2 separate regions of the Homo sapiens genome follow, and region 1 is linked to region 2. The links come from fine-mapping of genetic effects on gene expression. A gene starts in region 2. The other region holds a variant in brackets. All regions are shown on one strand. Distances are from middle to middle.

Region 1 (5,381 bases), 24 kb before region 2:
TTCTCAGCAAGGCAAGGTACTTCTATAGAAGGGTGCGCCCTTACAGATGGAGCAATGGTGAACACACATTTGGACAAGGGAGGGGAAGGGGTTCTTATCCCTGACGCACGTGGCCCCTGCTTCTGTGTCGTTCCCCTATTGGCTAGGGTTAGACTGCACAGGGTAAACTAATTCCGATTGGCTAATTTAAAGAGAATGACAGGGTGAGTGCTTTGGCGGGAGTCAAGGCAGAGCAGGTAGCAGGTAATCAGAATGAGTTAGGGTGGAGCAGGTGATCGGAATGAATTAGGGTGGAGCAGGTGATCGGAATGAATTAGGGTGGAGCAGGTGATCGGAATGAGTTAGGGTGGAGCAGGTGATCGAAAAAGGTTGCTTTATGAGGAAGTTAAGTTTAAAAGTAGAAGGCAAAGAATTGAACATACTGACATATTAACTCTTTGAAAAGAAATTTAGAACTCATATCTAACAACTGTTTCTCAAAATGTGGCCCAATTATTTTAATGCATTAAAATCTCCTGTGGTGTTGCTAAAAATGCACATTCCTAACCTTACCTCAGCCCTGCAATATCAAGACCCCGAATAGGAGGGGTAGAAGGGATGGGACCTTTCTACTTGAGTTTTGTCACATTCTTCTAGGTGAGTCTCACTCACATGAAGGAAAATAATTATATTAGATTCTCAGAAAGATTTCTTCAGTATCGAGATCATACAAGAAAGAAATGTCAAGCCATGAAAAAGACACAGCCAATCTCAGAAGGCTGTACATACTGCATGATTCCAATTATATGATATTCTGGAAAAGGCTAAACTGTAGAGGCAGCAAAAGATCAGTGGTTGTTGGCTGGGTGTGGTGGTTCACGCCTGTAATCCCAGCACTTTGGGAGGCTGAGGCGGGCAGATCATGAGGTCAGGAGATCGAACCATCCTGGCTAACATGGTGAAACTCCGTCTCTACTAAAAATACAAAAAAATAGCTGGGCATGGTGGCAGGCGCCTGTAGTTCCAGCTACTTGGGAGGCTGAGACAGGAGAATGGCATGAACCCGGGAGGCGGAGCTTGCAGTGAGCCGAGATCACGCCACTGCACTCCAGCCTGGGCGACAGAGTGAGATTCCGTCTCAAAAAAAAGATCAGTGGTTGTCAGGGGTTGGTGGAGGAAGGGATGAATAGGTGGAATACAGAAGATTTTTACAGCCACGAAAACATTTTATATGATATTACACAGAGTACACTACATGGTGGATCCATGCCATTATACGTTTGTCCAAACCCACAGAGTGTGCAACACCAAGAGTGCACTGTAATGTCAACTATGGACTTTGGATGATAATGATGTGTTCATGTAAGTTCATCAGTTGTAAAAAATGTATCACTCTGGTGGGATATTTTGATAGTTGGGAGTTTGTGTGTGTGATGGCAGGAGGTATATGGGAAATCTCTGACCTTCTGTTCAATTTTGCCATGAACCTAGAACTAGTCTAAAAAATGTCTTTTTAAAAAATCACGGTAAAATGATTTAGTAAGTTCTGAAGGTGTTTTTCTTTTTATTTAATACATTTACTATATGCCTCCAAAGTTCAGAACATTATGCTAGGTGCTGAGGAAATAAAAAGATGACTAATATGGAGGTTTCTGTACTCAAAGTGATTCTGTTCTGCTAAGGGAAGAGTAGAGTGCCCAGAATGGCTTGATTAAGAAAAAAAATAAAGTACTCAAGGTTCTAACTGCAGTTATGACTTGGAATGAATTTAAAACCCCCACCTCATATCTAATGAGTTTCTCAAGAGATCCAGATTCCAAAAATGTTAATGAGTGACCACATTATAGATCCATCTCAGAGATAGCTATAAAAGCTGAGACCAAAAAAAGGAATTCCGAAAGATATTTTAAAACAGAATTTTCAGTGTCTTAGTTGGGTTCCTAGAAGCGGAGCTTAGACAGGAATTCATGTGCAAGTGATTTACTGAGAGAGTGCTTTCCTGAGACATTGTAAGGGAGTGAGGGAAGGGGAAGAAGCGAGTCAAAGGTGTGGTTTCAGGAGATGTCTAGGCTCAGCTTCAGCCTGCGTAGGTACAGAGAGCGCCAGAGCATGGAGCAAGTAGAGCACTTCACACAGAGGTTTTCCTGCCTGGAGGCAAGAGGGCTGGGCTAGTATACACTCGCACAGTGACTCATTGGCCATGGGCCACCACCAGCCGCCTTCCAGGCTTTCTAATCATATCCTGTCAGCCAAGGGTAACGCCCCTCACTCCCTCAAAGGGTGCAGCTGTGAGTCAGGAGCAGCCAGTACTCACAGTGGCTGGGGTTGGGTGCACTGCCCAGTAAGGGGATCAGGGAGGACACTGAAGGCATCTGTCACATAAAGAAATGAACTGTCACATAAAGTTCAATGAAAAGGTTCTTCATTGCCTTTCCAGTTTTAACTGTTCTTATTCCTTTTTATCAGCTGTTTTCATAATTTTAGTCTCAGGAATTATCTTCGTTTCTAAGAATTATTGAGGCCCCCAGAGAGCTTTCTTTTATGTTGATTTCATCTGTTGATATTTACCATAATTGAAATTAAAACTGAGAAACACTGAAAAGATTGATTCATTTAAAAATCAGCGGTGTCTG[A/G]AATGATTCATCCTCTATGCTGGACACTCTTCTGTCCAGGCTCTGCAGTCAGGCTGTGCGGCTTCAAATCTTAGTTTCATCCCTTACTTGCTATCTTCCGTTAGCATCTTTGTGCTTTATTATCTTCATCTTTAAAATGCACTTTGTAAAAGTTAATTATTAGATTGTTGAGAAGATAATGAGATAATCCACACCAAGTGCCTGACACATAGTAAGCACTTCACAAATTTCAGCAAATACTAGCTAATATTTTCATTCCCTCACTATACCTTTCATTAAGACCTCAATTACCTTGTGTCTACAGAGTTCCATCAGTTTCCTGCCTGGCTTCTCCAGTTTCTCACCATGTCTCCCTCCATCAAAACATAGTAAACAGACTCATACACATACTTTTTCAAATGATTCCACACATATATACATATATACTAGAGTTTTTGTCCTAAAAAGTTTTTTCATCATATTATCTCTCTGCTCAAAGTCATTATTTCCATGATTTAAAACAAAAATCCCTATGTTAGCTTGCAATTCAAGTGGTTTCACAGCTTGGCTCTTCCTAGTCTTTCCAGTTGTGACTGTTGTTATTCCTTTGTATCAATTGCTCTCATAATTTTGCTCTCAGAACTTCTCTTTGTTTGTAAGAATTATTGAGGCCCCCAAAGGGCTTTCTTTTACATTGATCATATCTGTTGATATGTACCATATTTGAAATTAAAACTGAGAAACGTTGAAAAGATTGATTCATTCAAAAATAAACATATTACATATTATCATGAACACCATAGGTTTTATTAAAAAATAAAGATGTTTTCCAAATTCAACAAATTTCACGAAAAGAGCATCACTTTCACATTCGCAAATCTCTTTAATATTTGGCTTAATAAAATACAGCTGCATTCTCATATCTGCTTCTGCATTCAATATGTTACAAACATGTTGTTTTGGTTCAAGTATATGAAGAAAATCTGGCCTCTCACAGATAAGTAGTTGGAACAGGGAGAGAAGTAGTTTAAATCTTTATGGTTAGCTATAGATATTTTTCTACGATACAACACTAATATTCAAAAAATGGTAGTTTCTCAAAGGTTAGCTGCAATGAGGAATCTGTAACCGTATCAATGGTCTTTCCATGCTCTGTTATATTAAAATCCGTTTGGCTATTTTGCATTGTGTGAGGATACTTGTGCATGATTTTGATCTTACAGACTCCCTGACGGGTCTCAGGCATCCCAGGGTTCCTCAGACTGCATTTCAAGAACCACTGCTCTATACGAACTCTCTGTACTTCTCGTTCTAAAATGTACCTGGGATTTTGTTTTTATTCAGGTATGGTGAGGTCAACAGGTCAGGCAGGAGACAATTGTCACTGAAAAAGATAATTTGTTATTCACAGCTCTCAAGAGAAGGGGGCACTCCATTCCATGCAGAGCCACATGGGGAAGCCACCAGGGTCAGTTAGGCAGCAGAAGATGCAAGGAGGAGGCATGGGCAAAAGCCTTTATTGTGGTTTTCATGTGAAGGAATGCGCAAGGCAGGATAAGGAGCTAGGCAGGCTTAGGATTGGATAGCTTGAATAATTTGGGCGGGCTCTGGACTATAGGGGTGGTCTCTAGTTGTCCAGTACCTGGCCCTAGGGTGGCTGAGGTCAGGAGGACACTGCAGGAGTCTGATGGAAGGAGGAGCTGGGGGTGTGGTTGGTTTGTATATCAAAGGCATTCTCAAAGCCAAGTTGTTTGCTATCTCTAGGAATTTGCTATCCCTGAGAGGGGCAGTCCCTCCCTGAATCCACAAAACCCCAATATGTCAAAGCCTCACAAAATATAGAAAATGAAAGACATGATTAATACACCTCTCAGGTTGGTTTAATTACTTTCCCATAATATACCAGATATATTTTTTTTTCACTTTTTTTAAAATTATACTTTAAGTTCTGGGATACATGCGCAGAACGTGCAGGTTTGATACATAAGTATACACATCCCATGATGGTTTGCTGCACCCATCAACCTGTCATCTACATTAGGTATTTCTCCTAATGCTATCCCTTCCCTAGACCCCCACCTCACAACATGCCCCGGTGTGTGATATTCCCCTCCCTGTGTCCATGTGTTCTCATTGTTCAACTCCCACTTATGAGTGAGAACATGCAGTGTTTGGTTTTCTGTTCCTGTGTTAGTTTGCTGAAAATGATGGTCTCCAGCTTCATCCATGTCCCTGCAAAGGACATGAACTCATCCTTTTTCATGGCTGCATAGTATTTCATGGTGTATGTGTGCCACATTTTCTTTATCCAGTCTATGATTGATGGGCATTTGGATTGGTTCCAAGTCTTTGCTATTGTGAAGAGTGCTGCAATAAACATATGTGTGCATGTGTCTTTATAGAATGATTTATAATCCTTTGGGTATATACCCAGTAATGGAATTGCTGGGTCAAATGGTATTTGTGGTTCTAGATCCTTGAGGAATTGCCACACTGTGTTCCACAATGGTTGAACTAATTTACACTCCCACCAACAGTGTAAAAGCATTCCTATTTCTCCACATCCTCTCCAGCATCTGTTGTTTCCTGACTTTTTAATGATGGACATTCTAACTGGCATGAGATGGTGTCTCATTGTGGTTTTGTTTGCATTTCTCTAATGACCAGTGATGATGAGCTTTTTTATGATTCATATGTTTGTTGGCCACATAAATGTCTTCTTTTGAGAAGTGTCTGTTCATATCCTTTGCCCACTTTTTGATGGGGTTGTTTGTTTTTTTCTTGTAAATT
Region 2 (5,381 bases):
TGACAAAAACAAAAAAGGGGGAGAAATAGGGATTATGGGACAGCCCATACACAATTGAATCTAGCATTATTAACTTTAAATGTTTTGAGCCTGCCCAAAGAAGGCCAGATGTTATCAGCAGCTGAACAGCATCTACAGAAACCAGATGCAAAGACAGAAGCAGAACAACTGATTTGGTGGAGAGATCCGGTAACAAAAAGTTGGGAAATAGGTAAAATAATAACTTGGGGTAGAGGTTATGCTGTATTTCTCCAGGCCAAAATCAACAGCCGATTTGGATACCATCAAGACACCTGAAACCTTATCATTAGCCAGATGCCAAGGAAGAGATTCTGGGAGGATCCCAAGGACCCCCCCCCCCGGTTGCAGCCATGTTGAGACTGACACTGAGAAGGACCCCAACTGTCGTGAGCTATACCCATCAAACACAGCCACCCACCTGGGGACAGACCAAGAAGCTGTCACAGATGGCAGAAGAAAACCTGAGGAAAGCGGGACAACCAATCACAACGAGTAATTTAATGGTAGCTACCATAGCGGTGATCACCATTGCCATAAGTATTCCTTCAACAAGGGCTGCCGAGACCAGCTCGGTCGGGGAGAGCCTAACCTAGCGGCGCTAGAGGAATTAAAGACACACACATAGAAATATAGAGGTGTGAAGTGGGAAATCAGGGGTCTCACAGCCTTCAGAGCTGAGAGCCCCGAAGAGAGATTTACCCACGTATTTATTAACAGCAAGCCAGTCATTAGCATTGTTTCTACAGATATTAAATTAACTAAAAGTATCCCTTAAGGGAAACGAAGGGATGCGCCGAATTAAAGGAATAGGTTGGGCTAGTTAACTGCAGCAGGAGCATGTCCTTAAGGCACAGATCACTCATGCTATTGTTTGTGGCATAAGAAGGCCTTTAAGTGGTTTTCCACCCTGGAAGGGCCAGGGGTTCCTTGCCCTCATTCCAGTAAACCCACAACCTTCCAGCGTGGGCATTATGGCCATCACGAACATGTCACAGTGCTGCAGAGATTTTGTCTATGGCCAGTTTTGGCCATTCTCCTGAGGCAGGAGAATGGTGTGAACCCAGGAGGCGGAGCTTGCAGTGAGCCCAAATCGCGCCACTGCACTCCAGTCTGGGTAACAGAGTGAGACTCCATCTCAAAAAAAATTTTTTTTTACTATTCTGCTACCCAATATCCTTAAATAATTATTGAGTGCCTTAATCAAAATAAAAAATTCCCAGCTTGCCCTTTAAAATTCTTGTCAATCTGTTTCCTCTTATACCTAGTCAGCCTTGTTTTCCATTCCAACACTAAGTCTTAGACAAAAAGTCTTTATCTGTCCAAAAAATCTCTAAGTCTTTTTTTTTTTTCTTTTTTCGAGACAGAGTCTTGCTCTGTTGCCCAGGCTGGAGTGCAGTTGCCTGATCTTGGCTCACTGTAACCTCTGCCTCCTGGGCTCAAGTGATTCTCGTGCCTCAGCCTCCCAAGAAGTTGGCATTACAGGCTTGCGCCACCATGCCTGGCTAATTTTTGTATTTTTAGTAGAGACGGTTTTTCGCCATGTTAGCCAGTCTGGTCTTGAACTCCTGGCCTCAAGCAGTCTGCCCGCCTTGGCCTCCCAAAGTGCTGGGATTACATGCGTGAGCCACCATGCCCGGCCTCCCAATTTATCTTGAACATCCCTAGGTTCAACGTTCTATGAAAAACAGCCCCTTCTGCACGATTCCTTCTCATTTGTGCCCCGAACTTTATAAAATGCAACCACCTTTCTGAATGTGTATGAGCTCTCTATAGCATCAGGTCTTTATACTAGAGTTTGTAAAATGGTTTTGATTAATCTATTATTTAAAATGTTGGAGTAATTCTCAACATTTAAACATCATTGAAAAATTGCAAACTCTAGTAGGACCCACATTTCAATAAATGGCTGCAATTTACCAGTAGTTGACATCTTTAGATACGCACTGTTCAGTTAGAAAGTTACAGCTTCATTCGAAAAGCATTGAGCGTCTATTACTTGGGACACTGTTTTAGACGCTGGGGATATAGTAGTGACCAAAACTTATCAGGGAGTTTATAATCTAATGAGGAGGAGAGACAGGCAACATAATCATTACTACAGTTTTCTAAGAGGAACAGAGAATATGTGGGTGGGAAGGGTGCTTGGGCTTTTGCATTCATTTAAATACCTGGCTGGATGCTGTTGGAATTTGAGTTTATGACTCGTACTACCATCCGAATCGTCATACACCATCATGTACGTTATGCACTGCCCCTATAAAACTCTCAACAAGTCTAAGGCAGGGAGTGTGCCTCCTTCGCCTTTGGATTCCGGGGGCCCAGCAGTGTTTTTATGGAGGGGACACGATGGAAAGCGAAAAGTTAGGCGTAGTTACTTCGACCACCGCTGTCCCGGGTGGTTATTCTGACGGGGTTTGGACTGGGCGCCTGGGAGGGTGCAACACAATAATTGTTGAAGAGCAGTCAGGTCTTTCGCAGAATCTCAAAGCCACCTCCGCGCCGGCAGCTCCGTTTCTAGGGAAACAGGACTGTAACGCGTACGCGTCGTGGGTCCTCGTTCTCTAGCTACGAGTCCTGCCGCTCTGAAACAAACTAAATTCGTGACAAGAACTTGGCCCTCAGAGCCCGTCGTCCAACGCGAAAAACCACGGGTAACCGCGCCCCCTGCCGCGCCGCCGCTGGCACTGCAGCTTCCGGGGTCGTCCAGTTCCAGGCGGGACTACTTCCGGCTCCGAAGGTCCCCGGCTTCGTGGCTAGCCGGGGTCCTAGCGCTGGAAAGGTGGCCGTAGCGGCCGCCTGACCCCTACAAAAGTCTGGGACAGGGGCAGCGACAAAGGCCTTGGGAGGACGCCCATGGTCGGAGGGATCTCGCCCCGGGAGAAAAGTTGGGACAGGAGCGCGGGATCGAAGGGTGGACTCCGAGCCGGCCTGTCAGGCAAGAGCCGGGCAGGTGCGGTGGCGGAAGTGCAGGGACGGAGGCCGAAGCGGAGCGGTCTAGGGAGCCGCGGCCGCGGGTCACCCGGCGGGTAGCAGTTGCTGAGTGTCAGCTAGACAGCAGCGACTAGGGCTCGGGCGCCGGCGAGATGCCTTTGTTCACCGCCAACCCCTTCGAGCAAGACGTGGGTGAGTGCTGTGCCCGGTCCTGGACTGCTGTGTGCCTGGCCCTGGACTGCTGTTTGTCCGGCTAGAAAGTGGGCGGTAGCGACTCCGGGGACTAGGAAGCAAAGCGAAGGGAGGGGAGGGGCGGTGCCGCCCGCTCCTTCGACGTTGGGATTTTTCTGGGGCAACCTCGGCGCGTCGCTAGCGGTCTGGGGAGTGCTTCCTGCCGCCTGAGTTTGGGGACCCTCAAAGGGCCGTTCTCCTTGCCAAGCGTAGGATTTGGGAAGAGCCTAGGGCTCGCTGGAGACTGGACTGATTAAGTAGTTGTGGAGTTGGTGATTAAAAACTTCCTGCTCGTTCGACAGCTGGTTACCTCCGTCTTTGCCCCATCGTTTTCTGAAGATGATGCAGCAGTGGAGACCCTGCTGTCTAGAGAAGCCCAACACTAGACACTTGACACCTAGACAACCGCATTGAATAGGAAGAACTTACTTCCCCATTATTTATATTACTCATGCATTCAATCCCTGATAGGGTAGCTTTAAGATTTATTACAATTGTAAAGGTGTTGCTCTTCATCCCCGGATTGCAAAGATTGCGCGGGTGCTAGGAGATGTTCGGTTTTAGAGTATGAAAAGGAAATCTCCAGTCTCAAAACACTCCAGAACAACAAGTATTTTACATGTTGCAGTCATAAAGCGCTGGTCTCTCAGTGACTATAGAATGAGAAAAACATGGATAAGATATATACGAAATTATTTAGGAAATTTGAGTAACACTAAAACAAACTGAGAAATATATGTATGTATTCTCGAAAGTCTGGGTCTCACTATGTTGCCCAGGTGCGACTAGAATTCCTCCCACCTCAGCCTCCACCTCCGTTTCCCCTTCCCGAGTAGCTGGGACTACAGGTTTGTTTTTTGTTTGTTTTTGTAGCAGTAGTTAACAGAACCCTAGGTAAATTTTTAGAACTTGGAAATGGGGTTGGGGCGGGGAGACTCAGAAGAATACTGCACATCTCAGCAGTAATTCCCCTGTTTCATAGTTAACATTTGGTTATTAGGAGACTGTAGAAAGTGCCCTATTCTGATACGTTGTGTAATCCCCTAAGCCATTTTAAAAAACATGTTTGAGTCAAATAATATATGTAAATAGTTCAAATATGTATGTTCCTTACTTCATTAAACTTTTTTTTTGGTGGATGAATACAGGTGACTGGCGTAAATCTGGGAAACATCACTCTTAAGGCTCACTGTTTCCTTTTGGAACGCCTCATTGCAGTATTCTTTTGTTTGAATCATACAACCTTTGTGCAACCTGTACTTTTAAAAAATTGCTATTATGAACACTTTGATTCTGTTCTAATGAAATAAAACAGAAGGCGCAAAATAGAATTAGACAAATGATTTTAAAACTTAAAAACCGTGAATTCTTTTCTTCAATATAAATTTTTCTTGAAAGTTCATTGTTTTCTGATGGAAAAATTCTCTGGTACAAGTAGGCAGAGTTGCTCTGTCTGTTCTGTTCTAAACCTTTCCCTGCCTGGCTCCCGAGGCCCCAGCATTGGTTTAGTGGATCACAGTTTAGTCCTACAGTTGTAAAGGAGGCACTGCTGTTGAGATTAAAAAAACAAACAAACAAAAAAACTGTGTCTAGATTATTTTATGGCCAGTGCCATAAGCCAGAGCTTCAAGTAGTTACATATTAGCTTAAGCATGACTGAATTCAGAACCCCAAAGGCATTTTAAGGGTGAAAGAATGAATTTGAGGCCCTCCTGTAACTTCTGGACAAGAGAATGGAATTAGAAAAAGTAGAATGAAATACTAAAGAGCTCAAATTGGACTTGCACGTATATCATAGAAGAAAAATTATATATTACGTTTTTAATATCTTAAAACTTTTCATTTCAAATCGTTAATACAAAGCAAGGGTCAGGCGCAGCGGCTCACGCCTGTAATCCCAGCACTTTGGGAGGCCGAGGCGGGTAAATCACTGGAGGTCGGGAGTTTGAGACCAGCCTGACCAACATGGTGAAACCCCGTTTCTACCAAAATACAAAAAATTAGCCAGGCATGGTGGCGCGTGCCTGTAGTCCCTGCTACTGGGGAGGCTGAGGCAGGAGAATCACTTGAACCCGGGAGGCGGAGGTTGCAGTGAGCCAATATCTCGCCACTGCCCTCCAGCCTGGCGACAGAGCAAGACTCCGTCTCGAAAAAAAATATATATATATATGTATACATATATATATATATGTATATAT

What was found. PIP is the estimated chance that this variant, and not a neighbour inherited with it, causes the effect.
Region 1: its variant is fine-mapped to the expression of STAM2 in whole blood (TOPMed, PIP above 0.99).

What each region holds. Positions count from the first base shown.
Region 1 is chr2:152,197,564-152,202,944 of GRCh38, reverse strand. No RefSeq gene overlaps it. Among named protein-coding and RNA genes, the nearest start is that of STAM2, 24 kb to the right of the region's middle. The variant A/G (reference allele first, on the strand shown) is at 2,613.
Region 2 is chr2:152,173,366-152,178,746 of GRCh38, reverse strand. STAM2 (signal transducing adaptor molecule 2) reads left to right here and starts at 2,984. Exons shown (of 14, transcript NM_005843.6): 1 at 2,984-3,144. The coding sequence starts at 3,105. It overlaps LOC105373689 (a long non-coding RNA gene), which reads right to left and starts at 3,214. Exons shown (of 3, transcript XR_923477.3): 1 at 2,190-3,214. RefSeq lists enhancers at 2,627-3,046, 2,523-3,046, 3,207-3,346, 3,397-3,446.